Homo sapiens: one gene and its partner. The protein of the gene in region 1 purifies or fractionates together with the protein of each later gene. This does not show direct contact. Each region holds a gene or a part of one and is shown on either strand. Other genes may lie near its edges. The genes, in order: ABCA1 and IGSF3.

Region 1 (2,651 bases):
TGGCCAGGATATTCAGCATCCTCTCCCAGAGCAAAAAGCGACTCCACATAGAAGACTACTCTGTTTCTCAGACAACACTTGACCAAGTAAGCTTTGAGTGTCAAAACAGATTTACTTCTCAGGGTGTGGATTCCTGCCCCGACACTCCCGCCCATAGGTCCAAGAGCAGTTTGTATCTTGAATTGGTGCTTGAATTCCTGATCTACTATTCCTAGCTATGCTTTTTACTAAACCTCTCTGAACCTGAAAAGGGAGATGATGCCTATGTACTCTATAGGATTATTGTGAGAATTTACTGTAATAATAACCATAAAAACTACCATTTAGTGAGCACCTACCATGGGCCAGGCATTTTACTTGGTGCCTAATCCTATTTAAATTAGATAAAAAAGTACCAAATAGGTCCTGACACTTAAGAAGTACTCAGTAAATATTTTCTTCCCTCTTCCCTTTAATCAAGACCGTATGTGCCAAAGTAAATGGATGACTGAGCAGTTGGTGATGTAGGGGTGGGGGGCGATATAGAAAGTCAGTTTTTGGCCGGGCGTGGTGGCTCATGCCTGTAATCCCAGCACTTTGGGAGGCTGAGGAGCAGGCAGATCATGAGGTCAGGAGATCCAGATAATCCTGGCCAACAGGGTGAAACCCCGTCTCTACTAAAAATACAAAAATTAGCTGGGCATGGTGGTGCGCACTTGTAGTCCCAGCTACTTGCGAGGCTGAGGCAGGAGAATTGCTCGAACCCAGGAGGTGGAGGTTACAGTGAGCCAAGGTCTCGCCACTGCACTCCAGCCTGGGGACAGAGCAAGACCCCATTTCAAGGGGGGAAAAAAAGTCTATTTTTAAGTTGTTATTGCTTTTTTCAAGTATTCTTCCCTCCTTCACACACAGTTTTCTAGTTAATCCATTTATGTAATTCTGTATGCTCCTACTTGACCTAATTTCAACATCTGGAAAAATAGAACTAGAATAAAGAATGAGCAAGTTGAGTGGTATTTATAAAGGTCCATCTTAATCTTTTAACAGGTATTTGTGAACTTTGCCAAGGACCAAAGTGATGATGACCACTTAAAAGACCTCTCATTACACAAAAACCAGACAGTAGTGGACGTTGCAGTTCTCACATCTTTTCTACAGGATGAGAAAGTGAAAGAAAGCTATGTATGAAGAATCCTGTTCATACGGGGTGGCTGAAAGTAAAGAGGAACTAGACTTTCCTTTGCACCATGTGAAGTGTTGTGGAGAAAAGAGCCAGAAGTTGATGTGGGAAGAAGTAAACTGGATACTGTACTGATACTATTCAATGCAATGCAATTCAATGCAATGAAAACAAAATTCCATTACAGGGGCAGTGCCTTTGTAGCCTATGTCTTGTATGGCTCTCAAGTGAAAGACTTGAATTTAGTTTTTTACCTATACCTATGTGAAACTCTATTATGGAACCCAATGGACATATGGGTTTGAACTCACACTTTTTTTTTTTTTTTTGTTCCTGTGTATTCTCATTGGGGTTGCAACAATAATTCATCAAGTAATCATGGCCAGCGATTATTGATCAAAATCAAAAGGTAATGCACATCCTCATTCACTAAGCCATGCCATGCCCAGGAGACTGGTTTCCCGGTGACACATCCATTGCTGGCAATGAGTGTGCCAGAGTTATTAGTGCCAAGTTTTTCAGAAAGTTTGAAGCACCATGGTGTGTCATGCTCACTTTTGTGAAAGCTGCTCTGCTCAGAGTCTATCAACATTGAATATCAGTTGACAGAATGGTGCCATGCGTGGCTAACATCCTGCTTTGATTCCCTCTGATAAGCTGTTCTGGTGGCAGTAACATGCAACAAAAATGTGGGTGTCTCCAGGCACGGGAAACTTGGTTCCATTGTTATATTGTCCTATGCTTCGAGCCATGGGTCTACAGGGTCATCCTTATGAGACTCTTAAATATACTTAGATCCTGGTAAGAGGCAAAGAATCAACAGCCAAACTGCTGGGGCTGCAAGCTGCTGAAGCCAGGGCATGGGATTAAAGAGATTGTGCGTTCAAACCTAGGGAAGCCTGTGCCCATTTGTCCTGACTGTCTGCTAACATGGTACACTGCATCTCAAGATGTTTATCTGACACAAGTGTATTATTTCTGGCTTTTTGAATTAATCTAGAAAATGAAAAGATGGAGTTGTATTTTGACAAAAATGTTTGTACTTTTTAATGTTATTTGGAATTTTAAGTTCTATCAGTGACTTCTGAATCCTTAGAATGGCCTCTTTGTAGAACCCTGTGGTATAGAGGAGTATGGCCACTGCCCCACTATTTTTATTTTCTTATGTAAGTTTGCATATCAGTCATGACTAGTGCCTAGAAAGCAATGTGATGGTCAGGATCTCATGACATTATATTTGAGTTTCTTTCAGATCATTTAGGATACTCTTAATCTCACTTCATCAATCAAATATTTTTTGAGTGTATGCTGTAGCTGAAAGAGTATGTACGTACGTATAAGACTAGAGAGATATTAAGTCTCAGTACACTTCCTGTGCCATGTTATTCAGCTCACTGGTTTACAAATATAGGTTGTCTTGTGGTTGTAGGAGCCCACTGTAACAATACTGGGCAGCCTTTTTTTTTTTTTTTTTAATTGCAACAATGCAAAA
Region 2 (3,826 bases), on another chromosome or scaffold:
CACCAGCGATGCCACAGGTGTACCCAGTGCCCTGCCGAGAGCAGAGACAGTGTTCTCAGAGTTGCTATCAAAAAGGAGGCCGCAGACTGCATTCTGAAGCATCAGACAATGGGTCACATGCAAAAACAGAATTAAATACACAAAAATAGCACCAACTTAAGGCAAGCCTGGGCAAACTGCACTACATCAAAGAAAGAACACACAACTGGTATCAGATTTTTTTTTCTGTTTTAATAAAGAGAAGGCCTGGACACCTGAAAGTTGACGGGAAGCAGGCATTACTCATTTCTCCGAGTTCACAGTTTTGTTAGAATGTCTTTGCTCTGATTATGGTTTTTTTTTTTTTGAAATGGAGTTTTTTGTTTTGTTTTGTTTTGTTTGCTTTTGTTGCCCTGGCTGGAGTGCAATGGTGCAATCTCGGCTCATCGCAAACTCCGCCTCCCAGGTTCAAGAGATTCTCCTGCCTCAGCCTCCCAAGTAGCCAGGATTACAGGCACCCGCTACCACATCTGGCTTTTTTGTGTTTTTAGTAGAGATGGGGTTTCACCATGTTGGTCAGGCTGGTCTTGAACTCTTGACCTCAAGCGATCCACCCGCCTCGGCCTCCCAAAGTGCTGGAATTACAGGCATGAGCCACCACGCCTGGCCTGATTATGTTTTGATGGATATACAGAAGCTCTTGCTTTGGTACAGAAACAGGCCCCCCTTTGCTTCGACCTCTGGGCCCCCCACCTTCAGAAATGTCTGGTGCCATTCCTGGCTCCTCCTCTCAGTGGTCTTCCAGGATATCCACTCACAGCTTTCTGATGTCGCCCACCTGTCTCTAGCCCAGATACCCAGTCCTCATGGCAACTGACTGCAGCAATTTTTACAAATCTACACCCTTAGGGTTCCCATCCCAGGACATTCAGGTTTCTCCACCCCTTTAGAAGTGCCCAGAATATCCTCTACCCCACAATTCCAACAGGACGTCACTCTCCTCTTACTTAAGAAAAATGCCTAAAATTCCAGCCCTTCCAAAAGGCCTTTCCAGATTGACCACTCAGGAGTTACTCTGGCCTCCCCTTCACTCCTCCTGCTAAACTGAAAACAAGGACAGACTTGCCTGGCCTCTCTCCCCCAGTAGACACCTACCCTCAGTGAACACATCCTGTCAGTGTCCTCCTGTCCATTTGCAAATTGATTGACTGTTTCATTGCTGGCCTTGGATGACCTCTCCTAGAGGGCAGGGACGGGTGGTGTTCGGCAAAGCCTTGGTCGTCTGGATAATGGGAAATGGGGTCTTCTGGTGAATTTAATTACAGGGTTAGGTGGAAACTTTGCTTCAACTCTCGTTATTAGAAAGCCTATTGTAAAGCTTTTTAAAATACAACTGACCACTTTCCAGGCAGGGTAGAGTTAATATGCCTTAATCTTTGATTTAGGATCTTGCAGTGCCCCAGGCTCACCATTCTCTTCTGCTACTATAATTATAGATGCGGAAGACATACAGACTGGGCTGACGACTGCTTGGAAGCTAATTTCTAGAATAAACCCTTGCTACCACATCTTGTGATTTTTGCCCTTCTGAAGGTGGAGTTCAAAAATAAAAACAAAATCCCACTTAACTGAGGGTTCCAGTTGAGGGAGGTCTGCTGCCATGGTCTTTGTTAAGTGCCTGCCACCATGGCCCACAATTAGTCAGTTAATAAAGGGTTCTTGATGAGAGAATTTGGCAACATGTGATTTTCCACAAATATAAGCTTGATTTTGATGCAACCACTCATTTCTTTGAAAATCAGGGGGCATTCACACACAGGTGTTCTAGATTTCCTTAAAGTAAAAACCAACCCTTTACAAGGAATAGCTGTGTTCACTTTGAAGCAGTAAAGAAGCAGGTGTCCACTCATGGCAAATGAGGAACTCCCTTTTTTTTTTTGAGACGGGGTCTCGCTCTTTTTGTGTGTGTGTGAGATGGGGGCCACCCAGGCTAGAGTGCAGTAGTGCAATTACAGCTCACTGTAGCCTCAACCTTCTGGGCTCAACCAATTCTTCCCACCTCAACTTCTGAAGCAGCTGAGACTACAGGTGTGTACCACCATGCCCAGCTAATGTTTTTGATTTTTAGTAAGATGAGGTCTTGTTATATTGCCCAGGCTGGTTGGTCTCAAACTCCTGAGCTCAAGTGATCCTCCTGCCTCAGCCTCCCAAAGTGCTAGGATTATCGGCATGAGCCACCATGCCCGGCCAGAAGCTAAAAATATTAATCAAGGAGTCATAACTAAGGATGCACTGCACACCCAAAGCCAGGGACCACGAGAGGTCAGCAACTGGGACTGCTTCCTCCAGTTCCCAGGCTGGGGCTCAGCAGCAGTGGCCTGGGCTCTGGGGACTTACTTTAAGCCTAAATCCCAAACTCATTATAATTCAAACCAATTTTCTGTGTCCAGCATCATCCCACCTGAACTGGTCCTTAAAACCACTGACAGTCATTTCTCCAATCTGTAAAAGGCCTGCTGAGGCCTTTGCATTATCAGGACTTAATTGGGAGTAGAATGCCCTCCCCATCAAATCCTGACCATTTCTGAACACTCAGCCCATGTCCTCTTCCTGAGTGTCTTCCCCAGCAACAACCACCTACACTGAACTTTACTTCGATCTCTGCAGGAAACTGTAGATAGAGATGCGGTCTCACTATGTTGCCTAGCTGGTCTTGAACTGCTGAGCTCAAGTGATCTCCCTGCTTCTGCCTCCCAAAGTGCTAGGATTACAGCAGTGAGCCACCACACCTGGCCTATGTATGCTTTTCTTTTTTTTTTTTTTTTTTTTTTTGAGACAGAGTCTTGCTCTGTGGCCCAGTCTGCAGTGCAGTGGCGCAATCTCAGCTCATGGCAACCTCCAGGTTCAAGGGATTTTCCTGCCTCAGCCTTCCGAGGTGCTGGGATTACAGGCACACACCATCACGCCCAGCTAATTGGCCAGGCTGGTCTCAAACTCCTGACCTCAGGTGATCCACCCACCTTGGCCTCCCAAAGTGCTGGGATTACAGGCGTAAGCCACCATACCCGGCCACGTATGCATTTTAAAATGTTATGCTCAGATGGGGTCTATAGGCTTCACCAGACTGCCAAAAGGATCCATAACACAAAAAAGGTTAAGAAGCTCTATAATCAGACAAATGTGAATTCAAATTCAGATTCTGCCAAATTCCAGCTCTTTTCCTTTGAACATAATTGTTTTCAAGGGAAAAGTGTCATGAATTTCCTTATCTTGATCAAGGAAGCCAACACAGAAACAACACCTACCTTGTGAAACCATTCACTCATCAAAAAATTAACTGGGCCAGGTGTGGTAGCTCACGCCTGTAATTTCAGCATTTTGGGAGGCCAAGGCAGGCGGATCACGAGGTCAGGAGTTTGAGACCAGTGTGGCCAACATAGTGAAGGCCCATCTCTACTAAAAATACAAAAAAATTAGCCGGGTGTGGTGGTGTGTGCCTGTAATCCCAGCTACTCGGGAGGCTGAGGCAGGAGAATCGCGTGAACCCAGCAGGCGGAGGTTACGGTGAGCCAAGATCGTGCCACTGCACTCCAGCCTGAGCAACAGTGTGAGACTCCATCTCAAAAAAAATAAAATAACTGAACACCTGCTTACTTTGCATGGCACAAGGCTGAGTTCTGGGACTACAGTAATGAACATGACAGATGGTCTTCAAGAATTTTATACAGAAGGTCATGCTATGTAAAGTGTTTAGCACAGTGACTGGCACATAAGCACTCTATAAACACTTTAATACTCACTGATAAAACCACAAAATGTAGTGTTTAATTATATGCTGATTTAGGTT

The links.
Region 2: the proteins of ABCA1 (region 1) and IGSF3 fractionate together in Homo sapiens (co-fractionation; one large-scale study listed by BioGRID). This does not show direct contact.

Annotation. Positions count from the first base shown.
Region 1 is NC_000009.12:104,782,831-104,785,481, reverse strand, and holds part of ABCA1 (phospholipid-transporting ATPase ABCA1), read left to right. Parts: coding exon 1-86; intron 87-1,026; coding exon 1,027-1,167; 3' UTR 1,168-2,651. UniProt on the Homo sapiens protein: Catalyzes the translocation of specific phospholipids from the cytoplasmic to the extracellular/lumenal leaflet of membrane coupled to the hydrolysis of ATP.
Region 2 is NC_000001.11:116,657,692-116,661,517, forward strand, and holds part of IGSF3 (immunoglobulin superfamily member 3 isoform 2 precursor), read right to left. Parts: intron 1-3,826.